Homo sapiens: one gene and its partners. The protein of the gene in region 4 purifies or fractionates together with the protein of the main gene of each other region. This does not show direct contact. Each region holds a gene or a part of one and is shown on either strand. Other genes may lie near its edges. The genes, in order: SRRT, GTPBP1, GNAI2, GLDC, ADD1, DNAJC10 and SAFB.

Evidence for each region.
Region 1: the proteins of GLDC (region 4) and SRRT purify together in Homo sapiens (affinity purification with mass spectrometry, with the first as the bait; one large-scale study listed by BioGRID). This does not show direct contact.
Region 2: the proteins of GLDC (region 4) and GTPBP1 purify together in Homo sapiens (affinity purification with mass spectrometry, with the first as the bait; one large-scale study listed by BioGRID). This does not show direct contact.
Region 3: the proteins of GLDC (region 4) and GNAI2 purify together in Homo sapiens (affinity purification with mass spectrometry, with the first as the bait; one large-scale study listed by BioGRID). This does not show direct contact.
Region 5: the proteins of GLDC (region 4) and ADD1 purify together in Homo sapiens (affinity purification with mass spectrometry, with the first as the bait; one large-scale study listed by BioGRID). This does not show direct contact.
Region 6: the proteins of GLDC (region 4) and DNAJC10 purify together in Homo sapiens (affinity purification with mass spectrometry, with the first as the bait; one large-scale study listed by BioGRID). This does not show direct contact.
Region 7: the proteins of GLDC (region 4) and SAFB purify together in Homo sapiens (affinity purification with mass spectrometry, with the first as the bait; one large-scale study listed by BioGRID). This does not show direct contact.

What each region holds. Positions count from the first base shown.
Region 1 is NC_000007.14:100,878,103-100,881,602, forward strand, and holds part of SRRT (serrate RNA effector molecule homolog), read left to right. Parts: intron 1-2,593; exon of another isoform or gene 2,594-2,667; intron 2,668-3,182; coding exon 3,183-3,311; intron 3,312-3,500. UniProt on the Homo sapiens protein: Acts as a mediator between the cap-binding complex (CBC) and the primary microRNAs (miRNAs) processing machinery during cell proliferation.
Region 2 is NC_000022.11:38,704,613-38,708,743, forward strand, and holds the start of GTPBP1 (GTP-binding protein 1), read left to right. Parts: upstream 1-1,331; 5' UTR 1,332-1,343; coding exon 1,344-1,535; intron 1,536-4,131. UniProt on the Homo sapiens protein: Promotes degradation of target mRNA species. Plays a role in the regulation of circadian mRNA stability. Binds GTP and has GTPase activity.
Region 3 is NC_000003.12:50,239,204-50,242,703, reverse strand, and holds part of GNAI2 (guanine nucleotide-binding protein G(i) subunit alpha-2), read right to left. Parts: intron 1-3,500. UniProt on the Homo sapiens protein: Guanine nucleotide-binding proteins (G proteins) are involved as modulators or transducers in various transmembrane signaling systems.
Region 4 is NC_000009.12:6,635,730-6,639,229, reverse strand, and holds part of GLDC (glycine dehydrogenase (decarboxylating), mitochondrial precursor), read left to right. Parts: exon of another isoform or gene 1-105; intron 106-3,500. UniProt on the Homo sapiens protein: The glycine cleavage system catalyzes the degradation of glycine.
Region 5 is NC_000004.12:2,899,344-2,902,843, forward strand, and holds part of ADD1 (alpha-adducin), read left to right. Parts: coding exon 1-92; intron 93-3,500. UniProt on the Homo sapiens protein: Membrane-cytoskeleton-associated protein that promotes the assembly of the spectrin-actin network. Binds to calmodulin.
Region 6 is NC_000002.12:182,757,757-182,761,256, forward strand, and holds part of DNAJC10 (dnaJ homolog subfamily C member 10 isoform 1 precursor), read left to right. Parts: coding exon 1-69; intron 70-1,080; coding exon 1,081-1,134; intron 1,135-1,403; coding exon 1,404-1,551; intron 1,552-3,500. UniProt on the Homo sapiens protein: Endoplasmic reticulum disulfide reductase involved both in the correct folding of proteins and degradation of misfolded proteins.
Region 7 is NC_000019.10:5,661,083-5,664,582, forward strand, and holds part of SAFB (scaffold attachment factor B1), read left to right. Parts: intron 1-435; coding exon 436-726; intron 727-2,939; coding exon 2,940-3,077; intron 3,078-3,314; coding exon 3,315-3,357; intron 3,358-3,500. UniProt on the Homo sapiens protein: Binds to scaffold/matrix attachment region (S/MAR) DNA and forms a molecular assembly point to allow the formation of a 'transcriptosomal' complex (consisting of SR proteins and RNA polymerase II) coupling transcription and RNA processing.

The DNA of each region.
Region 1 (3,500 bases), on a different chromosome or scaffold from region 4:
GGAATTTGAGACCAACCTGGGCAACGTGGTGAAACCTGTCTGTACAAAAAAATACAAAAATTAGCTGGGGGTGGTGGCACATGCCTGTAGTCCCGGCAACTCCGGAGGCTGAGGCGGGAGGATGGCTTGAGCCTGGGAGGTGGAGGTGGGAGTGAGTCTTGATGGCACCACTGCATTCCAACCTGGGCAACAGAGAGATACCCTGTCAAAAAAAAAAAAAGGAAATTAAAATTTTGGAAAACTTCTACTAATGTGAGCTTGACAGCTTCCCATTAAGTAAAGACTTTCTTGGTGAGATAGGCAGTGATGCTGATGAGTACATTTTGATATTGGGTGAGACATAATCCAGGTCCATTGAAAGGGAAAGATAGAACAGTGGATTTTAATGCAGCAGAGAAAGAAATATTCACTGATACTATTTCAGATTGAAGGTTCTAACTAGCCTGTGAGAAACTACTTCCTTCTTGGACAAGGTAGCATAAAGAAAAGAAAAAAAAGAACCTACCTCTTGTTGAATTTTGGGTAGTATCCAAAATGAATATCTACAGTTAATCTGAAAAGGCCTTTCCAACTCCTTATCAGTATGAGGCCTGATTTTCTGTTTTTTTTTTGAGACGGGTCTTACTCTGTTGCCCAGGTTGGAGTGCAGTGGCACGATCATGGCCACAGATCACTGCAGCCTTGACTTCCCCAGGCTTAGGTGATCCTCTCACCTCAGCCTCCTGATTAGCTGGGACTACAGGTGTATGCCATCACACCCAGCTAACCTACTTTCTTCCTTCCTTCCTTTTCTTTTCTTTTCCTTTCTTTTCTTTTCTTTTCCTTCCTTTCTTTCTTTTTCTTTCTTTTCTTTCTTTCTTTCATTCTTTCTTTCAGATGGAGTCTCACTCTGCCCAGGCTGGAGTATAGTGGCGTGATCTGGGCTCACTGTAACCTCCATCTTCCGGGTTCAAAACGATTCTCCCACCTCAGCCTCCCGAGTAGTTGGGATTACAGGTGCCTGCCACCACGCCCGGCTAATTTTTGTGTATTTAGCAGAGACAGGGTTTTGCCATGTTGGCTAGGCTGGTCTCAAACTTCTGACCTCAAGTGATCTGCCTGCCTTGGCCTCCCAAAGTGCTAGGATTACAGGCATGAGCTACCACTTCCAGCCAGCCAGCTAAGTTTTGTATTTTTAGTAGAAAGGTGGTTTCACCATGTTGCCCCAGCCTGGTCTTGAACTCCTGGGCTCAAGCAATCCACTGCTTCGGCCTCCCAAAGTGCTAGCATTCATTACAGATGTGAGCCACCATGCCCGGCCTGCCTCATTTTTCAAGCAGAACAAAATATCTCAACAGATTCAGTGTAGAAGCTATCCTCTACAAAGCCAGAACTTGGAGAGATTGGTGACAATGTAAAAACAATGCCACTTTTTCTCACCAAAATTTTTCTGGAAAACGATTTTTCATAAAAACATGTAATGTGTTTCATCTTACTGTGTAATTTAAAAATGAAGGTTTTGGAACATTTCGTTTTAATTTTGAATATAGTAAGTATCGATAGATGTAACCCACATAAGCAGAAACTCTTTGGTGTCCTCAGTCATTTTTAAGAGTATTAAGGGGCTGAGGCAGGAGAATTGCTTGAGCCCAGGAGGCGGAGGCTGTAGTGAGCCGAGAGTGATTGTGCTGCTGCACTCCAGCCTGAGCGACAGAGTGAGACTGTCTCCAAAAAAAAAAAAAAAAGAAGAAGAAGAAGATGAGGATGGGGGAGGCTGGTGATTGGTTGGGAGGTTGGTGACTGGTGGAGAGGCTGGTGACTGGTCGAGAGGCTGGAGTGACAGCCAGGAGCCCAAGTTAAAACAATAGTGTTGCTTACTGACATTGAAGTAACGGTGTGATGTGATGAGACTTGTGTTTGAGGAAGGTCTGCCTGCCAGTGGGGAGACAGAAGCGAGAGACCAGAAGCAGGCGGGCAGCCAGGGCTGCAGGAGCCACACTGGCCAAGGACAAAGACTAGGACAGGGTGTGTGGGGATGGCAGAGAGTGGGACAGCTTTGATAGGCTTTGAGGCAGAGGATTAGCAGGAGCAGTAATTAGCGGTGAGGGTAGTGAATGACAGCTGGCGAGAGATGCTGTTCCGTTGATACAGCAGAGTGGGGAGCGGGAGGAGGAAAAGACATTTGGGCCCATAGTGGTGGGATGAATAGGCTTGATTCTTTTTTCTTTTTTTGGTGGGGGGGATGAAGTCTTGCTCTGTCGCCCAGGCTGGCTTGCAGTGGCGCGATCTCGGCTCACTGCAAGCTCCGCCTCCCGGGTCCACGCCATTCTCCTGCCTCAGCCTCCCGAGTAGCTGGGACTACAGGTGGCTGCCACCACGCCTGGCTAATTTTTTTTTGTATTTTTAGTAGAGACTGGGTTTCACCATGTTAGCCAGGATGGTCTCGATCTCCTGACCTCGTGATCCGCCCGCCTCGGCCTCCCAGAGTGCTGGGATTACAGGCGTGAGCCACCGCACCCGGCTGAATAGGCTTGATTCTGACAGGCTGAATTTGAGGGGGTGATGGACTTCTAGTAGGGGATGATTTTTAAAAAGTTTTCTGTTTTATTTTTAGAGACAGGGTCTCCCTCTGTCACCCGGGCTGAGTGCACTGGTGCAGTCGAAGCTTGCTGCAGCCGCGACCTGCCCGTAAGTGGGCCTGTAGCAGGGGTGATTCATGTGGGTCTGGAGCACAGGCGGAAGGCCAGGCTGGGAGAAGAGTTGGAGAACCATCAGTTCTTGGGTATTGGCTGAACTCATGGAGTTAGACAAGAATCTTTGTTTTGTTTTGTTTTGAGACAGGGTCTCTGTTGCCAGGGCTGGAGTGCAGTGGCTTGCCCTGACTAGAGAAAAATCTTTTTCTGTTAGGAGCGAAGTTTTATAATTGTAGGCTTTTTAGTCTGGTATCTCAGGGTGTAAGAAGGGCCTGTTTAGGAATGTGGCTGTGGCATATCCAGCTGTATCTTTAATTATTGTTACCTTTTTAAAAAATAAAAAATTTTTTGTAGGGATGGCGGGGGGCGGGGGGGGGTCTCACTATTGCCCAGGTTGGTCTCGAACTCCTGGCCTCAAGTGTTCTCTGCCTCGGCCTCAAAAGTGCTTGGATTACAGGCATGAGCCACTGTGCCTGGCCTTTAATCTTTGTTACTTGTTCTTACTGCCAGAGAGTGGGACCGTGGCCGTGAGCGCCGTAGTCGGGGTGAATATCGGGACTATGACCGGAATCGGCGAGAGCGCTTCTCGCCACCTCGCCACGAACTCAGCCCGCCACAGAAGCGCATGAGGAGAGACTGGTGAGATGGAGCGGTTTCCCTCTCCTCCCCTTTGCCTCAGTTCCACCTGGGCCTCCCCTTTCTCCCCTCACCTGTGCCTAAATCTTTGTCATTTCCTTTTCTCAACTTCCCATCACCCATCGTTACTTTGTCCCTTGAAACCCTTGTCTGGGAGACCATGCTGTGTGTACCCCCGTCTGTCCATCCTCC
Region 2 (4,131 bases), on a different chromosome or scaffold from region 4:
TGAGCAATTTGGCAAGGAAGAAATTAAAAAGCACATAAGAACAGTATCAAGACCATTGGAATCAGATGACTTCCTGTCCAAGATTCCCAGCTGTGTTTGTGCAAATAAGACTTGATAGTAGTGGAAAACAGGGACAAGAAGAGACTGTCTCTTTCTTCTCAGGTAGATCCCCAAAACTGAAAGCCATTTTCAATCCTGCCACTTGCTCACTAAAGATTTAGGGTTTAGGTCCAAACCCTAAGTCTTGGATTCCTTATCTTCTCAAACATGCTCTTGTTTGCTTGATGCCTGGTTCGAGTGGCCAAGGCCGACATTCATAGACGTTGGTTAATCCCTAATTTCGCCAAACAATGACGGCCTAGGCTTTTCCGGCTTTTGAAACAGGAATTCAAGACACTAAAACGTGTGTTGATGGCATTTTGGGTTGGGGCTTTTCACAACTGATGACACTGGAAAAATAATCCATAGGAAACTACCTTATGAGACCCTAGATTTCGGTTTAGCAGTTCACCACAAAAGTGGTGAGGTGTTTTTTGGCTTTTAATTTTAGCTGCTTGCCTCTGTTTTTAGTTCGTGTGATTGCCTCCGCAAAGGCAGTGAATGGAGAATTCTCCCTAAGGTCAGCATTTAATTATTGCCTCACTCTGGCTGCTATAGTATTACAACTCTTGGAACTTACAGCATCGATCCTACTATTAAAGTTGCCTGGAGCATGCCAGCACGTTGGACATCGGCGTTCCAGCAACTGCCTCAGTCACTGAATCGAGTGGGAGGCTCATTTTGCAGTTTACTATCTCCATGAGCAGGTCCAGGCGCGGGACCTGTTCTATGACTCGATTGGGTCCTGCCCTTGTCCGTCATCGGAAGGCTTACAGCGCCTACTGTTTTGCAGTAAGATTTGCAGGCTTAGTACCGCCTCTGGAAACAAGGAGAGTGAAGGGGCGTTGACGAGTAACGTTGTTTGTATTTCTCTCCTCATTGGATGGCTGCTGTGTCAGTCAGACACTTCTCTGCTTCCGTTGGCGGGAAGGCTTCAGGCGGGTAGCGGGGACTCGGTACTGCCCCCTCCCAAGCTGGGAGCAGGGCGCGTGACGTCTCAGACATTTGTTGTTGGGATTTGGGCCTCATTAATTATTCATTAGGTACTTGAAAGCTCTGCAGGGATTGGTGGCTGAGAGGCCTAGTCGACTGTTTCTTAGCTAGAGGTACGTGTCACCCAGTACGCGGCTGGAGTTTTGCATAAATTATTCCGATAAGGAGCGGGGCGGGGCTCTGTGCATAGATTAGTCAAATGAGCCTGGGAGGGAGGGAAGCCGGCTACGAATTAGCCTAAGTTATTAAAGATGGCGACGGAGCGCAGTCGCTCCGCGATGGACTCGCCGGTCCCGGCCTCTATGTTCGCCCCCGAGCCCAGCTCCCCGGGGGCGGCCAGGGCCGCGGCGGCCGCCGCCCGACTCCACGGCGGCTTTGACTCGGACTGCAGCGAGGACGGCGAGGCGCTCAACGGCGAGCCAGAGCTGGACCTCACCAGCAAGGTAGGCCCGGGCGGCGGCGGCGGGCGCTGAGGGGAGCGGGCGGCTGGCCGAGCAGTCTCCCGGGCGACGGCGGGGCCAGCGGCCGCCCTGTCCGCGGGGAGCGCGGAACGGGAAGAAGGGGCCGAGCCCGCCCACCTGCTAGTCTCCGGGACGTGCGGGGGTTCGCGGCGCGAGGGGCCGTCCCCATGGTCCCCGCACCCACCTTGGCTCCCCCGCGTCGCCAACCCAGCCTCCCGCCCTCCCGTCTCCCGCCGAGATCGTAACCCCTCGGCTCTGCCACGTGGAACGGGGGCGCCCGATGCCAGCTGCGCTCCGCGCGTTCCCTGTCCCCGCTCAGTGCCCCTCCCCGTTCTTCGGGTCCCCACTTGAGGGGATTCGGAGACCGAGAGTCTCCTCTCCCTGGACCGCGCGGGACAGCAGAGGGGCGAGGGGGCCCGGGCAGGGGGCCGAGACGCTCATGAAGACAGGTAGTCGGAGGCCAGGGCAGGGTGGCCGCCGCGTCTCTTCCCAGACTCGGGAAAGGAAACAGAAAGTAGTCGCTCAGCTGGGGAGGAGCATGTCCGAGAATGTCTACTTTTCGAGGCCACCCGAAACAAAATGGAAAGATGGTCAGGCTCCTTAGTCTCGCTATCCTGTGAGTGGAAGCTCATCTTGTATGAGTGGAGCAGTGAAGGACGTTTAAAACCGTGTTTTTTGAGCTGTCGAGAAGGTAGGCAGGAATTAAGGCCTCGCCAACGGCTTGACATTGTGAAGAATAGAAAAGTAAATACAAGATGTGACTGGTGTTTTGAAGGTGCTTAACGTTCCTTAGGGAAAGAATGCCAACTTGGGAGTCAGACAGGGCTGGGTTCCCTTTCCTGCCCTACCATCGAAAGGCTCTGTGACGTTGGGAAAGTTTCTTAACCTTTCAGTTCTCCAACCACCTCATCTTAAGAAAGTACAGATGGGTTGTAAAAATTAGAAATATTTAAGAAGACACCTAATAGTGCCTGATGCATACTAGAGACTCAGTAAATGTTTGAAGTGAACGAGATAGTTCCTAATTTCCTGTGCAGATTAAATAGCAGTGGGTGAAAGATAGAACACCAATACCACCACTTACATTTGTAGGATAGTTACGATAGACATTTTATCCAGCTTTGAAAATGTTTGTGACTTTTTATAGTTTATGGCGGCAAATTTGCATGAAACTTGGTCCTAAACTGGGGAGGAACTTTCCCTGCAACCTAAGCAAGTTATTTTCAACTGCTCTTTGCCATTGTAGTCTCAGGTGAGCACTTGGAAGCCAGCTAGCCTGTCAAAGTTGGTCCTGTCTTGTGCCTGTAAGGCCATAATGAGGATGGCCAAACTTAGAGAGAGGGATGGCCAGGACGATGTAAAAGACCCAGGAAACATCCAGGTTACAATTACAAGCTCTGATGAGTCAACTCAGGAAGTTACAAGATTATGGACCTGACTCAAGAGCAAACAAACTGGATGTCAACACATGGTCAAGGTGCTGAAGAAACATGATAGGAAATTGCAGGGCAGAGTTGCAAAGACGGTAGTACCTTCATTTCTTGACCAGCTCATTTAATATTCCTAGAAGTGTTATTTCATCACATAGCTGGGGAAGTCCTCCTTACAATTAAAAAAAATCATATGTATATTAATATCGATGATATCAAAAAGAAAAAGTGATGGTGTGGAGGGAGAGAAGGGTTGGGTTGAATAGATTGATTCCGGAGGAACAGATTAGAAGCGAAAGGTTCATGTCCTTACGATAGAAAATGTGGAGACCTAAGGCTCCGAGAGCTTCCAAAGGGAGAAACACTTAGTGAATAGTGGTGGCTAGTTTCATCCAACAAGGTTTTTCTGGGAATGATTGGGTGAAGAAAACCTTGTAGTTTCACATTTATTGAGCTGTGGACTAGATGCTTTACATGTTATTATATTTGCTCTTTACAGTGGCCTTAGGATGCAGGTAGTATTAGCTCCGTTTTATAGATTGAAAAACTGAAACTCAGAGTGGTTAAATTCTTTGTCCAAGGTCACACAGGAGTGGTTAGAGAATGGGGTCTGATTGCCAAATGGCTTACCCAAGTAAATGGTTGACACTTCAATGTTATTGGCAGACATTTGCAAAATGACGGTGCTAATACTCCTCGTAGTGGTAATGGTGATGGTGCTTTGTTGATGAAGATGAGTCTTGCAGGCAGTTTTCATTCCCAAATATTCAATATAGCTAAGACAAGATAGAACAGAATTCTTTTGTTATCCTGGAAGCCACTGGCCTGTGGGTGGAGGGCATGGAGGTATATGAGGTATATGTCTTGTGGGCTTCCAGATGCCAACTGCAGGTAGAAGACTTTGGCATGTAGATGGAAAGCACTGCGCTTTCTATCCACAGTGCCATATTCTCAGTCACTTGGGTCCTGCCCTTCCTGTTAAGCAGCAGGAGGCAGGCTGCTTGTGCCCTCTTTACCATGGGTTATGGCTCAGACATACACATTGTAGTATATTATTTGGCTCATATAAGGCCTGAGGCTCAAAGGCTACTTCAGGAGAAGCAGAGAGGGCATGAAGGGGCTGTGCAGCCTTTTTAGATGAGGGTGCT
Region 3 (3,500 bases), on a different chromosome or scaffold from region 4:
CCAGCAAATGTTTGGTTATTCCAGAAAGATTCTTCCTCCCCAGCCACCAAGAGCAGCCACAGCCCCAAGAAGTAACATCAGGGTGAGGGTGGGGTTGGGGTTTAGTAAGAACGAGAGCTTCAAGCTAGAAGGGCTGGGTGGGGCTGGGCAGACGGGGTTCCACCCTGCACCTGTAGCTGAGGGAAGGGCTGCCTGAGAGCATCAGGTACCAGGGACACCATCAAAGGGCCCAATCCTTTGCCTTCCCCAAAGCACCTTGCAGAGCACTCTTAGGCAGGGTGTATCAGCAGTGGCCTGGCCAGAACCTGCTGACCCCTTCCCCTCCTCGCTCAACTCCTAGGCTGGGATTCCTGGCCTGAGATGCTGGGAAGATGAGACTACTCCCTGGCCTGTACCTTGCCCCCATCTGCCCGGTCCTGCCTCCCCCCACAGCACAACGGGATGTAGGGGAGGCAGCACTCAGGCTCTGGGGTGACAGTCTCCTCCTCTGCTGTGGGTGGGGTGGGGGGAGTCCCTGGTTCCTCAGTGGCTAAGAGCTTGGGTGGACAAAGCTTCCTCCATCCTGTTCCCGCCAAGTGAATGGGTGGCTTTTAGAGACAGACTGAGAGAGTCACAGCCAGGGACCAAGAACTAAGATCAACGGCAGAGTATACAGGACCTGTGTGTCTGCCTGTGGCCCAAGTAGCCCCAAGTGCACCTACTGCCCCACCCCCTGCAGTGCTGGAGGCCTAGGGACCTTGCTGGGACCTGACCACACCCCACCCTCAGCACTACCTGCTGCCACTTGCCAGGCAAACTGATGTTCAAGGGCCTGGGACATCAGTGATGGCACTCAGTGACCCTACCTCTCAGGCCACCCAGGGCCAACCGCTGACAAGCTGCCCAGGGCCAAAGGGGTCCCGGACCATCCCCAGGCCCCATCCAGCAGCCTAGGCTCTGACACATAGTGGGTGGTGTGATGCTGCCTCAGGGCTTCTGACATGGAAGCCTGTGTCCCGCAACTGGTTTGACTTCCACCTCCTGCCACAGCAGCGCGGCTCATTCTCTCTGTCCTCACACCTGCTCTGCCCTCTGTCTGGGGTTCCTCTCCCCAACCCGCCTGGGATGCCCCCAGCTGAGCTCCAGCTGCCCTGATTCACCTAGTCTCTCAGCTCAGAGGTATCCCTTAAAGGACCTAGTCTCACTCCTACCCTAGAGGTATGACCTCATGTTGGCTGCACTGACACTGGCGTGAGAGGCAGGGGCTGAGCCTAGCAGAACTGGGCAGGATGCAGGCAGAGGGGGTCAGCTATAGCTTGGACCCCTGTTCACTCCTTAGTGTGGGAGCTCTATCCCTGCCTGCTCCTGCAGACAAAGCCCCGACAAGCCTGGGGGAGGGGTGGGAAGAAGAGACTCAGAGGCCCAAGCCGCCCCGCCCCCCATTCAAGTGCTAATGAGCTCCAGCAGTGAAGGAGAGGGCTGGGGTAGAGTGTAGGGGCTGGAGGCCAGCCTGGGTGGGTACTGGCCCACCTGGCACCCAGGGCCCTACCACATCTCCAAACCTAGACCCCCAGAGGTTGGGCCTAAGGTCCCCAGGGCAGTCTGTCACTCCTGCTGGCACCAACTATCTGCACGCCTTGGGCTCCCCACTTGCTGTGAACAGCTGCCTGAGGGCAGGGGAGGGGGTTCCCTAGGGCTCCAAACCCAGGCCAGGCAGCCTCTAGGATGGGAGACTCCTTCCCACCAAACTCTCAGCAGTGGGTCCCTCATCCATTTTCTTTTTTTTTCTTTTTTTTTTTTTTTTTTGAGACAGAGTCTTGCTCTGTCCCCCAGGCTGGAGTGCAGTGGCACCATCTCGGTCCACTGTAACCTTCACTTCCCAGGTTCAAGCGATTCTCGTGCCTCAGCCTCCCGAATAGCTGGGATTACAGGCACATACCACCATACCTGGCTAATTTTTTTGTATTTTTAGTAGAGACGGGGTTTCACCATGTTGGCCAGGCTGGTCTTGAACTCCTGACCTCAGGTGATCTGCCTGCCTCAACCTCCCAAAGTGCTGGGATTATAGGTGTGAGCCACCGCGCCTGGCCTCCCTCACCCATTTTTCATACCTCCAAGCTTTGGTAGACTGTCCCCATAACCTGTGGCTGCAGGGAGGCACTCTGCCCCCAGGTTATGAGTGGAGAGCAGGACTCCTGCCAGGGCTTCACCTGATGCTGAGTCTCTCAGCCAGTGCCATAGGTGGAACTGGGATTCGAACTCAGGTCTGGATGACCCCATGGGCTGGTCCAGGGAGGGTGGCCCTTTCCCCACCAGGCCAGGAAACACCCACCCAAGCTCTTGGGAATACAGGCCAAGTCTTCCTGCTGCAGTGTTCTTGTCGAGTTGGTCCCTCTGACCCCCAGTGCCTGGCCCTGGCAAATGGTATTCATCCTTCACAGCTGCCCAGCAGACCCCCTCCTCCAGGAAGCCCCCCTTCACAGGCACCATTAGAGTCTAACTCACTACCCAGCCAGCCAGAATCCCAAGCTAACCCTTCCTATCTGTCTCTAGCTAGACCAGGCTCCAGTGGCTGCCCCAGGATTATACTTACTCCTCTCCCAGGAGCTCTGCCCTGTTCATGGACATGTTCAATCACTTCATTCTGTCCATATACCCTCATTAGGCATCTATAGTATGCCAGCCCTTTGCAAGAGACACAGACAGGACAGAGGCCACAAAACCCCCTTTCTTTTCTTTTGGTAAACTTCATTGAGCCCTTGCTATGTGCAGTCTCTGCACTGGCCAGTACCAGGACTCTCACAGCATTGCTCTGGTCTGAGCCCCAGGGCTGCGGAGCAGCCCCTGCTGGACCAGCCAGCTCAAGCTCGACTGTGGCTACTGCAGTGTCAGAGACAGCAGCCCTCTAGCAGTGCACCAACAGCCTGAGTTGGAAGGAAGAATACAAAGCCACTCTGCTCAGCAGGAGTTCCGCACAGGGTGGGATAAGAACTCTCTCAGGTGCCAGCATAGCCTGTGGCGGGGCTGGGAAGAAACAGCCTGAAGAACTTTTCTCAGTGTCCCCTCAATGCTGGTCACCAATCCTGTGGTGGGCCTGTGGGCCCTTGCCACCTGCCCACAGTATGCAAACTGCCGCTCAGTTTACTCCACCATCTACCCAAAATCAGGTTCAGAGGATACTTCCTTCATTCAACAAACAGATGAGAAGCACCCAGTAGATGCCAGGCTCCATGCTGGGCACAGAAATGAAGAGGACTTAGCCCTGCCCTGCAGTCTCCAGGCATCTGAGGGGGGAAGCAACAGCGCTGGGAGCCAGATGTTTCACCAGCCTTGGTCGAGGGAGGATGTCCAGGAAGGATCCTGGGAGGTGATCCCAGAGTAAAGTTTTAAAGAACAATCAAGTAGGGAACAACACACACAAAGTTCCAGGGGCAAGAGAGAACTGCTCTGTTTACATTCTGAAGCCTTTATGGAGCCAATGGTGGACACTGTCTCCTTTTTTTGTGAAGCTGTCCACACAG
Region 4 (3,500 bases):
TTCAACACTGCCTTCTTGGCCTTTAAAGCATTCTCTTTGGCTTCGGCTTTAGGAGGGGCAGGAGCTTCCTTCTTCGCTTTCGGCGCCATCTTGTGAAAAAGCTCTGTTTTTGTCATTAATTCTCAATAGGCAGATTGGACTGTCACCTTGTTGCCTAATTGTTAAATGTTTACTGACTACTATTGAAAGACACTCTGAGGATATACTTTTTTTTTTTTTCTGAGACAGAGTCTCGCTCTGTTGCCCAGGCTAGAGTGCAGTGGCACGGTCTTGGCTCACCACAACCTCTGCCTCCTGGGTTCAAGCGATTCTCCTGCCTGAGCCTCCCGAGTAGCTGAGACTACAGGCACGCACCACCATGCCCAGCTAGTTTTTATATTTTTAGTAGAGACGGGGTTTCACTATGTTGGTCAGGCTGGTCTCAAACTCCTGACCTCGTGATCTGCCTGCCTTGGCCTCCCAAAGTGCTGGGATTATAGGCGGGAGCCACCGTGCCCAGTGAGGATATACATTTGAATAAACATAGTCACTATCTCCAAGGGGCTTACATCTTACCTTCTTAATATAAATAGATCAGACAGACAGTTAAAAAGTTCTAGGTGCCATGAAAGCTGTGGGTAAAATGTCATGAGCGTTCAGAAATGATGTGAAATGGGATGGAAAGACAGAGTTAAGAGTTGGAATATATCTTCTCAATGTAAAGAAGCAAAGATGAAGCTGGGAGCAGTGACTCACGCCCATAATCCCAGCACTTTGGGAGGGCGAGGCGGGTGGATCATCTGAGGTCCGGAGTTCAAGACCAGCCTGACCAACATGGTGAATCCCCGTCTCTACTAAAAATACAGAAATTACCTGGGCGTGGTGGCGCATGCCTGTAATCCCAGCTACTTGGGACGCTGAGGCCGAGGCAGAAGAATCGCTTGAACCCGGAAGGTGGAGGTTGCAGTGAGCTAAGTCGCGCCATTGCACTCCAGCCTGGGCGACAGTGAGACTCTGTCTCAAAAAAAAAAACAACAAACAAACAAACAAAAACTCAAGCAAAGGCAGTACCTTCACTGAGAAAAAGGAAATGGAGAAATGCAATGTGCAAGACATAATTCGGCAAGCACTTGAATGTTGTTGCGGGATCATCCCTGATGGAATCTTAAATAATTATGCTATCAATTATTTGGGGGATATTCAGATAAATGTCGAAGTATATCATGGTAAAAGTGGAGGGGTGAAAATATTTGTTTTAAAAGTGATGAGATTACAGGCTGACACCTGTAATCTCAGCACTTTGGGAGGTTAAGGTGGGTGGATTGCTTGAGCCGAGTAGTTCAAGACCAGCCTGGGCAACATCCTGTCTCTTTGAAAAAAAAAAAGTAAAAAAAAATTTTTAATGTGTTGAGTCCTAAAATAAATTATGATCAGTTTTTCCTTTCTTATTAAAATTAGAATCCCAAACTAGAAATCTCAGTCTTGGCTGGGCACAGTGGCTCATGCCTGTAATCCTAGCACTTTGGGAGGCTGAGGCGGATGGATCACTTGAGGCCAGGAGTTCAGCATCAGCCTGGGCAACGTGGCAAAACCCTGTCTCTACTAAAAATACAAAAATTAGCTGGCTGTGGTGGTGCATGCCTGTTGTCCCAGCTGCTCAGGAGTCTGAGGCAGGAGAATAGCTTGAACCTGGGAGGTGGAGGTTGCAGGGAAGAGAAGGTTGCAGTGAGCTGTGATTGCGCCACTGCACACCAGCCTGGGCGACAGAATGACTTCATCTCAAAAAACAAGACAAAACAAAATTAAAAAACCCTCAATCTTGATAAAGTATCTTTTTTTTTTTTTTGAGAGAAGTCTCGCTCTTATCCCCCAGGTTTGAGTGCAATGGCTCGATCTCAGCTCACTGCAACCTCTGCCTCCGGGGTTCAAATGATTCTCCTGCCTCTGCCTCCCAGGTAGCTGGTATTAAGTCACCTGCCACCACGCCTGTCTAATTTTTGTATATTTTAGTAGAGACGGGGTTTCACCATGTTGGCCAGGCTGGTTTCGAACTCCTGACCTCAAGTGATCCGCCTGCCTCGGCCTTCCAAAGTGCTGGGATTTTCCAAAGTGCTGGCATTACAGGCGTGAGCCATTGTGCCCGGACTTTTTTAAAAAAAAAAACAAACAAAACCAGTTCTGCTCTGTCACCCAGGCTGGAGAGCAATGGCACGATCTCGGCTCACTGCAACCTCCGCCTCCTGGGTTCAAGCAATTCTTCTGCCTCAGCCTCCCGAGTAGCTGGGATTACAGGCACCCACCACCACAGCCAGCTAATTTTTGTATTTTTAGTTGAGATGGGCTTTCACCGTATTGGTCAGGCTGGTCTTGAACTCCTGACCTCAAGTGATCTGCCCGCCTCAGCCTCCCAAAGTGCTGGGATTACAGTCATGAGCCACTGTGCCTGGACTATTTTGGGTTTTTTAATTTTATTTTTGAGATGGGGTCTCACTCTGTTGCCCAGGCTGGAGTGCAGTGGTGTGATTACAGCTTACTGCAGCCTCGACCTCCTGGGTTCAAGTGATCTCGCACTTCAGCCTCCTGAGCAGCTGGGACTACAGGCGCATGCCACCATGCCCGGCTAATTTTTGTATTTTTTCTAGAGACAATCTTACTGTGTTGCCCATGCTGGTCTCGAATTCCTGGGCTCAGGAAGAAATCCTTCCGACTCTGCCTCCCAAAATACTAGGATCATAGGCGTGAGCCACCTTGCCCGACCAACTTTATTTTTTAGAGCAGTTTTAGGTTCATGGCAAAACTGAGTGAAAGCTACAAAGATTTCCCATTAAACCCACTGCCTCCACACAAGCGTAGAGTCTCCCATTATCAGCATTGCCTACCAGAGCATTTGCTACAATTGAACCTACATTAATGCATCATTATCACCCAAAGTGTTTTTTTTTTTTTTGAGACGGAGTCTCACTATGTCACCCAGGCTGGAGTACAGTGGCACGATCTCAGATCACTGCAACCTCCGCCTCCTGGGTTCAAGCGATTCTCCTGCCTCAGCTTCCTGAGTAGGCGAGACTACAGGCATGAACTATCACGCCTGGCTAATTTTTGTATCTTTAGTAGAGACGGGGGTTTCACCATGTTAGCCAGGCTGGTCTTGAACTCCTGACCTCAGATGATCTACCCACCTTGGCCTCCCATAATGCTGGGATTATAGGTGAGCCACTGCGCCTGGCCTCACCCAAAGTGAAGATTGTTTACGTTAGGATTCAGTCTTGGTGTTGCACATTCTAGGGGTTTAGACAACTGTAGTATAACATCTGTTCATTATTATCATTTTTATTTTAAAACATTTTATTTTTATTTTATTTTATTTATTTTATTTGAGACAGTATCTTGCTATGTCACCCAGGCTCGACTACAGTGGAATGATCACAGCTCTGTGCAACCTCGACCTCTCCGGCTCAGGCAGTCCTGTCACCTCAGCCTTCCAAGTAGCTTAGACCACAAGGAGAACCACAGCACCTGGC
Region 5 (3,500 bases), on a different chromosome or scaffold from region 4:
GGTCTCCGGTAGGGGAAGGCACTGGATCGCCTCCCAAGTGGCAGATTGGTGAGCAGGAATTTGAAGCCCTCATGCGGATGCTCGATAATCTGGTAAGAATGGTGCCACCACTTGATGATAAACCTTTTGTTCTAAAAGCATCAGTGTTGGTGTTCTTACAGCAAGTGCGATTGCTGTCTTTTATGCAGTATCTGAATACCTTCACCTTCAAAGTCATGAAGAAGCACTAGGGTTGTTTAACTTCTGAGGTAAATTACAATAAAATGTAGAGGTGAAGGATTCCTGGTATTGTTTTATTTTTTAAAGATAACCTTGTGTTTGGACTCAGTGGGGACAAGAGCACAGAGAATGCGTAGGCAGCTGGATGACCAGCTGTGTCAGCTCAGTCCCCACCATCCCACAAGCAAGCGAGAGAGGTGGCACTTTTGAAATCGGTCAGTCAGGTATTTAGGCTTTTGTCTTAACAGCAAATCCTGGCTGTCTGGGGCCTGATGACTGTGTTCCATGGGTATCCACTCCCTGTCCACAGCGTGGGAGCCCCTCAGCTGCTTATTGCAGGGACACAGAGCCCGGCATGGTCCAGAAGGCGGGCTTATGGGGCCTGCAGCACACAGGGAAAGTGAGCCCACACTGTGATAGGAGGGCAGACACACAGGATGTGTTCTGTGTTACAGGGTTGCCGTGAAGAATTTCATTCTTTTGCAAGGACTGGAGAGAAAATTTTATGTGGAAGGTAGCCCTTGGAAATGACCTCAAAGAATAGGTAGGATCTTAGCCTGCGTTTGAAAGCCTGGAAAAAAACAGGATGACAGGATGAAGAGGCCACAGCACAGCTGCAGACAATGGGAGTGGGGAGATGGGAACATGCAACGTACGGTGCACCTTTCAGGTTCATCTTGACTTTACCAGGATCATTAAATACTCAGTTCTTAGAGCTGTATTAGAACACTGCCCTTGGGGTCTCAGTCCCGCAGCCACATCATCAGACACAGGGCTCTGGAACAGATCCCTTCCATGCTGCACATCAGACCTCTTAGATGGGGGTCACGATGGTCCGTCCTAACGCCACATGACCTCAAGTGGTGTAGATGTGAGGACATGTCAGTGTGGGGAAAGAAGGCCTCAGAGGGGCCAGTATCCTTGTATGCTGCCAGCCAGTACTGGACAAGTGGGCACGTTCCAGCCTAAGACAGGCGTGGCCCTTGGACCAGATCACAGATGAGATGGGTGGCTTCAGGAAGCAGGGTGGCTTCAGGAGGCAGGAAGTTTAACTTTCCTGAAGGTTTGGAATAAAAAGTATTCATAGGTCTGATTCAGGCTATGTTAAATGTTCTTACTGAAATTCTTTGCACTTGGGATGAATATTGTCCGCTAGAAAGGAGGAACTGAGGGTTTTCTGCCTGGGCGCGATAGTCAGTCAGTGGAGTAGACTCAATCAGTGACACAGGGACGAACAGAGAAGGCAGAGTCTAGCGTAACTTTTTGAGTTCATATAATCAGTGAGGTTGATTGCATTAATTGACTGTCTACTGTTGAGTCATGAACAGGACACAGTTCTTGCCCTCAGGAGTTTATGACCTAATAAGAGAGATGGACAAACGATTCCCAAATGAGCCCTGCCCCTGTGATCTGTGCAGTCATAGGCATGATGAGAGCTTGCAGGCAGAGGTGGGTGCCGATTGGTCAAGGAGGTAGGAAGAGGAGCAAAAGCTCATGAAGAAGGCTGAAGAAGCAGTTAGAGTTGGGTGGCCAGCCAGGGTAGTGAAGCTGCAGGGACTCATAGATGGAGAAAGCTTGAGAGTGGGGCAGCCATGGCCCAGGTGTGCGTCAGGAGCCAGGTCATCCAGCATGGCTGTGCAAGGTAAGGAGGGCTGAGGTTGGCCCAGTCACACAGCCCCTGCCTCCTGGTAAATACGGCGACATTTTGCTGCTCTTCTACTTACAGTCAGTGTGAGGGAGGAGAGAGGGGGGTCAGAATGCACAGCAGCCACCAAAGACTGTGCTGAAAGCACATCCTAGAAGGCGGAGAGGGGGAAGTCAAAATCAGGTAGAAACTCTGATTTGGTAGGGAAGGAAGATAAGGATGAATGATTAATAAGTAAAACATTCATTACAAAAAGCATGATGAATGTTTACTCAGTGTCCTTAATGTGTACAGATTGTTTTAATATTAGAAGGCCATATAGTTTATAAGAAATAAACTAGACAGCAATCACTAATCATAGTCCATGTTTTAATTTAGCATCGGGGTTGGCATATATGTTGTTTGCTAATAACTGAGTAGAGAATAGTTGCCAATTTCCACACTATAATATATGTTGCAGCCGAGCACAGTGGCTCACTCCTGTGATCCCAGCACTTCAGGAGGCTGAGGTGGGAGACCAGGAGCTTAAGACCAGCCTGGGCAACATAGCGAGATTCCTCTCCACAAAAAATAAAAAAATTTCAAAAAGAGAGATAATATTTCATTTGAACTTCTACAGTTAGAAAAAAAATGCTAAATTGTCCCCCCCCCAAAAAAAATCAAGATATAATTTCAGTTTCTCAAAGAAGGAACAAATCCATATATATTTTCTCTTTCTTTTTTTTTTTGGAGAGACAGGATGTCATCATGTTGCCTAGGCTGGTGTTGAACTCCTGGGCTGAAGCAGTCCTCCCACCTCAGCCTCCCAAAGTGCTAGGATTATGGGTGTAAACTACCACGCCTGACCCAAATCCATGTTTTTAACTACAAGCCAGATAGTAGTTCTGAGGTCTGAGTATTACTTCTGGTTTTGGTTTAACAGCATTTAAAGGGGAAGAATAAAGAAAAATCCATATGGTTTCAGGATAAAATGATGTTGATGAGTCCTGGGTGGTTTATTCTGAAGTTGTGGAGATTACTGAGTTCTGGCTCTTTAAGCAAAAGGAAACTTGAATTAATAAGAACTGTGTTTTTCTGCAGATAGTCTTTATGGCAGAGTCATTCTCTTTTATTATTCCTCAACAAAGCATGCTCAGAAATGGGAAAACTGCCAGTACACACATTTACCTTATCTTTCTGAGGACAATTATGAAAATAAAACCCAAAACAACTCCATTCATGATTGTTATTACCTTTTTAAAAAAATGTAGGCCGGTCACGATGGCTGATGCCTGTCATCCCAGCACTTTGGGAGGCCAAGGCAGGTGGATCACCTGAAGTCAGGAGTTCAAGACCAGCCTGGCCAACATGGTGAAACCCCTTCTCTACAAAAATTAGCCAGGTGTGGTGGAGGGTGCCTGTAATCCCAGCTACTCGGGAGGCTGAGGTAGAAGAAGCACTTGAACCCGGGAGGCAGAGGTTGCAGTGAGCCAAGGTCGAGCCACAGCACTTCAGCCTGGGTGACAGAGCAAGACTCCATCTCAAAAAAATAAAAGGAGGCCGGGCGTGGTGGCTCATATCTATAATCCCAGCACTTTGGGAGGCTGAGGCAGGTGGGTCATGAGGTCAGGAGATTGAGACCGTCCTGGCTAATACA
Region 6 (3,500 bases), on a different chromosome or scaffold from region 4:
GGAAAACGTTCAAAGATACCCTGAGATAAGATTTTTTCCCCCAAAATCAAATAAAGCTTATCATTATCAGTAAGTATTCTCTCATATTTGAAGACATTTATTATAATTATTTAATTATACACTTAACAGTTAAGTTACCTGAACAAAATAAAAGTTAACCCAACAAATATTTATTGGGAGCCCACTACGTAAAGATAGTTTGTTAATGAACATTTCAGAAGATGAAAAGGGAGTATTGAACAGTCTCACTGTGCATAAAGCTTATAGTCTAGACAAAAAGATAAGGAAAGGAAGAGCTAACATTTATTAAGTCCTTAAACACCTTATTTGGTTTCAGGTACTATATTAGATACTTTACTCACCTTATTTCCAATAATCCTCACATATGCTCTGTGAACTAGGAATTACTACCCTTCCTACTATTACAGAGAAGTAAACTGTGATTCTCAGACCTTAGAATCCAAGGTCTAGGAGTTATCTAAGGCTTAGATAACTTCCCCAAGTCACACAGCTGCTAAGTTGAAGTTGAGGTTTGAACCCAAGTCTGTCTCAGCACCCATGCTGTTTCCACAACACCACGTGGTATTTCAGGTAGAAAACTCAAATGTAAGGTACATATGATGAATGTTATTAAACAAGTAAAAATGAACCATGGATTTCAAGAGAGGAAAGGGTCACAACTATGAGGAAATTATGAAAGGCTGCATTTTGTAGGTAGTTTTTGACATGTGTCTTTAAAAATGGGTAGGAATTTGACAGACAGTAATAACTTGAATAAAGATTCAGAAACTAAAACCCTTGGACATTCTGAGTTTCGCAATTCCCATAGGTCTACAGGAGATGTCCAGTAGACAGCTAGACATTCTGGGCTGTCTGGGGCACAAAGATACCAAGACTAGAGAAAAATACATTTGTGAGGCCTTATAACCAGAATTTGTAGCTAGGTATATTTGAGAAGAGAGATACCAGATGAAATCAATCAATATAACTTATTTTTTAAATTGCTACAATAAGATTGTTTTCTGAATACATCCAATAATAGAGAATCCTATTTACAACTAACATTTTTTCTTCTCTCAGCAGTTACAATGGTTGGAATAGGGATGCTTATTCCCTGAGAATCTGGGGTCTAGGGTGAGTAATTAAAATATATATCATTGTATAAAATAGATTCAAAGCCATTTACCCCCCTTTTATATCAATAGTTAAATTTACTGTGGGTTAAGGTTCTAGCATTTTAAATTACTTAGTAAAGTATTATATTAACCAAGATAGTACTGTACTTTATTACATTGCCCTTCCTTGACATCATTTTTAACTTAGAAAGTATTACAATATTATTGCATTTCATATGTTTGCTTTGGTTTTATATAATGAAAAATGATTTTGATCATTTGCCACAGATTTTTACCTCAAGTATCCACAGATCTAACACCTCAGACTTTCAGTGAAAAAGTTCTACAAGGGAAAAATCATTGGGTGATTGATTTCTATGCTCCTTGGTGTGGACCTTGCCAGAATTTTGCTCCAGAATTTGAGCTCTTGGCTAGGGTAAGTCATACCTGTCTTAAATAAGTTGTAGCCACATTCATGTTTTAGTAATTAGATAAAACATTGTAAGTATGTAATTTTTAGGTTTTTTTCTTAAATGTTTCCTCTGAATTTAAAAATAGCTATTATATTTCTATGACTGTAATGGTTGTAGTAGATTTCCTCTTTCTTTGTTAAAGCTTTTAGCTAACATCTTCTCTATCTTGGTAGACATCATCATCTACTAGCCATAAAAGCCAGAAACGTCTCTTTCTTCTCCCTCTTGTCTACTTTCTCCTCCCCACCCCAGTACTCTGTTGCCCTCCAGGCAGTTACTAGATTGTGTCAGTTTTATCCCCTAAATGTCTTTCAAATGTCATTTCTTATTCATCTCTACTGCTAACCTGTTTCTTCAACCCTTTATCATCTCTTGTCTAGACTTAACCATATTTGCCTTTTAAGTGCAGTCTTCCCTTGATATACTCAGGGGATTGGTTCCAGGAACCCCCATTCCATACCAAAATCTGTGCAGCTCAGGCCTCACAGTGGGCCCTCTGTATGCAGGGTTTCACATCCTATGACTATTCTGTTTTCCATCTGCAATTGCTTAAAAAAAAAAATTCCCAGTTCAAGCAGTTCAACACAGTTCAAGCCTTTGTTGTTCAAGAGTCATCTATGGTATTATACTGTCTACCTTTGTCAGTGCTGCCCTGGTGATCTTCTAAAATATTTCCCTCTCTGACTTACTAAGTTTCTTAATATGCATACATTGACTTCAGGTGTCTGATATGAGCTCTATCTCTATTGTCCACCTCACACCTTAGATTCCAGTGTAACAGAGTACTCCAGGTTCTCTGAACATGTGTCCTTATTTACATGCCGCTCCCTCTCTCTAAAATGCTCTGTCCTTACCTTGGTCATCTGTATTTTTTCTCCTCTTACTGCAAAACTCAGCTCCGATGGCACTGCTCTATTCTCTGCCCTTCTCAGTTAATCAGTGTCACCTGGATATGTTATCAAGTGTACTGATACAGTGCATATTAATTCTTTATTTATTATTACTTGAAAGATATTTAATTTGACCAGAAATAAAAGGAGCTGGATACCAATGGAAATAATTAGTTGTAGCAATTTTGGGTTTTGTTCGGTTGGTTGGTTTTATTTTTCGGTATAGCATTGTCCATCTTCCTTTGTAAATGGCTGTCTCTTCCTGAGGGCAAAGTCCATGTTTTATTTATTTTTATATCCTCAGGGCCTAACTCAGTAAATGCTTATATAAAATTAAACTGAATACATACCCTCAATGCAGTCTGAGCTTTTGGTGTTTCTTTCTGTCGTAACAGTCTTATTAGTGACCTAATCCAGATTGATAGCTTTCTTGCCTCCATAACTCGAGGAACTCTTGCCACTAGTGTTGGTATAAAACACTCAACTGGAATGAGAAAGTCAGCTCCAGTTCCACCAGTTCACACTAAAGCTTAGCATCCCAGGCCATGGGAATTTTTTAGCAGAGGGATTTTAAAGGTCTTACTAGCTATAAAAGATTATTTTTGTTATTAGCTGGTGCATCAGATAAGAGGTTTATTCTTTCCATTCTAATCTTCTTATGCTTCCTTCTGTAATAATTCTGCTTTACTCCATTTCTCATGTACTAAAAACTTTAGTTATAAACTTTGTAATGCAACTCTATATTGTATCTAGTAGAAAATTATTAAACATGAAAAAGACCATTTATTCAACAAATTTTAAGTACCAAATGAAAAGCCATTATGCTAAGTAGTAGGGCCACGTAACTCCACATGAAAGAAAAGGAAGATGAAAAGAAAGAAATTCCATGTCTTTAAGGAGATTTTAATCTAGTGGAAAGAGAAAATGGAAATAAATATAAGTAATACAAGATAATTGCTACAGTAAAATTAGAATGAAGCTGGAACAGGGGTAGAAGGGTGTCAGTGATGCCAGAGAAGGAT
Region 7 (3,500 bases), on a different chromosome or scaffold from region 4:
AGCTAATTTTTGTATTTTTAGTAGAGACAAGAGTTTCACCATGTTGGCCAGGCTGGTCTCGATCTCTTGACCTCATGATCCACCCACCTCAGCCTCCCAAAGTGCTGGCATTACAGATGTGAGCCACCGCGCCCGGCCTGTTGCTTATTTTTGACTGGCTGTTTCCTGAAATCACTTGTCAAGCTCCAGGAAATGTTGGAGAAAGGAGGCCCAGTTCTGATCACACACACACAGCCTGGGCCTCACTCCTGAGATCTTCCTGGGCTGCTCCTGTGGGCCCGAGAAGCCTTCTTCCCGCTGGAGTGTACGGTTCTGCAGACCACGTAGTGGACGCACAGCCCTGGAGTCTGTGCGACCCAGCGTCTTACTTAAAGTCAGCCCTGGGACCTGGCTGGGGGTGTCTAGGTCCCCTTCTGCAGCTCTACTGTTGTGCAGCAGGGTGCGTGAACGCAGTGAACGCGAACAACGCATGCAGGCGCAGTGGGAGCGCGAGGAGCGTGAGCGGCTGGAGATTGCCCGAGAGAGGCTGGCCTTCCAGCGCCAGCGGCTGGAGCGGGAGCGCATGGAGCGGGAACGGCTGGAGCGCGAACGCATGCACGTGGAGCACGAGCGCAGGCGCGAGCAGGAGCGCATCCACCGTGAGCGCGAGGAGCTGAGGCGCCAGCAGGAACTGCGCTATGAGCAGGAGCGGCGGCCCGCGGTGCGGCGGCCCTACGACCTGGACCGGTAAGCAGATCCATGCTGCCCTTAGCACGTGGCGTTCAGAATCGTGTTAGGGACCTCACAGTCCAGTTAGCTTGAGATTTTTTTTTTTTTTTTTGAGACGGAGTCTTGCTTTGTCGCGGAGGCTGGAGTGCAGTGACCCGATCTTGGCTCACTGCAAGCTCTGCCTCCCGGGTTCACACCATTCTCCTGCCTCAGCCTCCCGAGTAGCTGGGACTACAGGCGTTTGCCACCTCTCCCGGCTAATTTTTTTGTATTTTCAGTAGAGACGGGGTTTCACTGTGTTAGCCAGGATGGTCTCTATCTCCTGACCTCGTGATCCACCTGCCTCGGCCTCCCAAAATGCTGGGATTACAGCTGTGAGCCACCGCGACCGGCCAGCTTGAGATCTTTCATTCAAAGGAAGCATAGGCCGGGTGCGCTAGTTCACGCCTGTAATCCTAACATTTTGGGAGGCCAGGGTGGGCGGATTGCCTTAGCTCAGGAGTTGAAGACCAGCCTGGCCAACATGGCAGAACCCCGTCTCTACTAAAATACAAAAAATTGGTCGTGGTGACAGGCGCCTGTAATCCCAGCTACTGGGGAGGTTGAGGCAGGAAAATCGCGTGTACCCAGGAGGCAGAGGTTGCAGTGAGCCAAGATCGTGCCACTGCACTCCAGCCTGGGCAATAGAGTGAGACTCGGTCTCAAAAAAAAAAAATTAGAGACAGGAGGCTGGATAAAGTAGTGCTGGTTAACTAACCAGGTTCAAGGGTGGCACAGACCTCCTGAGGAGGGAAGCTCAGGCACGTAGAGAGCGCCACACGTGCCCTACTGCACCTCCTTTAAGGCCCTTTCCTTTTTTTTTTTTTTTGAGATAGAGTCTCGCTCTGTTGCCCAGGCTGGAGTGCAATGGCGCGATCGCTGCTCACTGCAACCTCCACCTCCTGGGTTCAAGCGATTCTCCTGCCTCAGCCTCCCTAGTATTCGAGATTACAGGCACCCACCACCACACCCGGCTAATTTTTGTTTTTTTTAGTAGAGATGGGGTTTTGCCATGTTGGTCAGGCTGATCTCAAACTCCTGACCTCAGGTGATCCACCCACCTCAGACTCCCAAAGTGCTGGGATTACAGGCGTAAGCCACCACCCCCGGCCTTGTCCTGGCTTTTTAAATCCATTGTAATTTGTTTTTGCTTATTCTAGAAATAAAGAATTAAAAAAAAATTTTTTTTTGAGACGGAGTTTTGCTTTCGTTGCCCAGGCTGGAGTGCAATGGCGTGATCTCAGCTCACTGCAGCTTCCGCCTCCTGGGTTCAAGCAATTCTCCTGCTTCACTCTCCCAAGTAGCTAGGATTATAGGCATGTGCTACCACACCCGGCTAATTTTTTGCATTTTTAGTAGATACCGGGTTTCACCATGTTGGCCAGGCTGTCAAACTCCTGACCTCAGGTGATCCACCCACCTTGGCCTCCCAAAGTGCTGGGATTACAGGCATGAGCCACTACGCCCGGCAGTAAGATTAATTTTAATTTCTCAAACATACTGAAGAGGAGGTATGAACACAAAATGCTGAGCATGGCTGCTGTGAGGAGTCAGGTGTGTAATTCCAGCAGTGATTGTGTCAGGCTTTACACGTGCACTGCAACCTGGCAAAAATTGCTGTTTGTTGTTTCTTTCTATTGCATGGGTTGAAGAGGAGCCCAGGTCATATATACAATGCAACTTCTATAAAGGGCCTTGTAAACTGTTCTAGGATCTATTATGCTTTGGTACGAAATCCTTCTGATGACAGTTCATTATGGTCATCTGTGTATTGCAGCAGTACATGGCCAGGGCTGCTGGCAGGGCAGGAGGTCAGCTTTGGGGCGAGAGAGATGGCAGGTGCACTTGACAGAGCCCCTCGGGGTGGAGGCTCACGTGGTCTTCCTGAGCGGAGGTGGCTGTGTAGGGCTCCAGAAGCCATCTGCAGGCAGCCCATAGGACTGACTGCTTAACTAATGGCTCCCTCTTTGGAAAACCGAGGCCGCTTTTCATCAGGGGAGGTGGGTGCATGGGACAAAACAAAACAACTGTGCAGTCACTGGGGTCAAATCAGACCTTGCCTCCTATAGGAGAGAACACTCTTGGTGAAAGTCATCCTGGTTCTGTGAAGTGCTAGGGGCCAGCTCCCACAAAGGTGATAGATACATTTGGGGTGGGGGATCCCTCTATCTCTGTCTCATGTCCCCTCACAGGCGAGATGATGCCTATTGGCCGGAAGCCAAGCGGGCCGCCCTGGATGAGCGCTACCATTCTGACTTTAACCGCCAGGACCGCTTCCACGACTTTGACCACAGGGACCGCGGCCGCTACCCCGACCACTCGGTGGACAGGTCAGTTGGGCCCCTGCTGGGCGTGCGGGTTTTCTTTTTCCTGGCTCATTCTGACTGAGAACAAGGACTCCTGGGCTCTCTGAACCCACTCCGTTCATCAGATGTATGCTGAGTCAGACCCGCAGGTCTCCTGCCTTCAGTTAGGGAAATTATGCTTTTCATTGGGGGCCTGATGGTCCTCTCTTTGTGAACAAGCCTCTTCTTCCCCTTACGGTTTGATTTAAATTGCCTTTTCAGGAGAGAAGGTTCAAGGTCAATGATGGGAGAACGAGAAGGACAGGTAAGTCTGAAGCTACAGTGGTAGCCACAGAATTTCCCATAGAATGGGTTCTTTTCCCTTCAGCGTGCCTTCTTCCTGCCCTTTCTTTGAGCAAGAGGCAAAATGAGGAAAGAGAAAAGTAAAGCACTAGAAAAGTCTAGGTT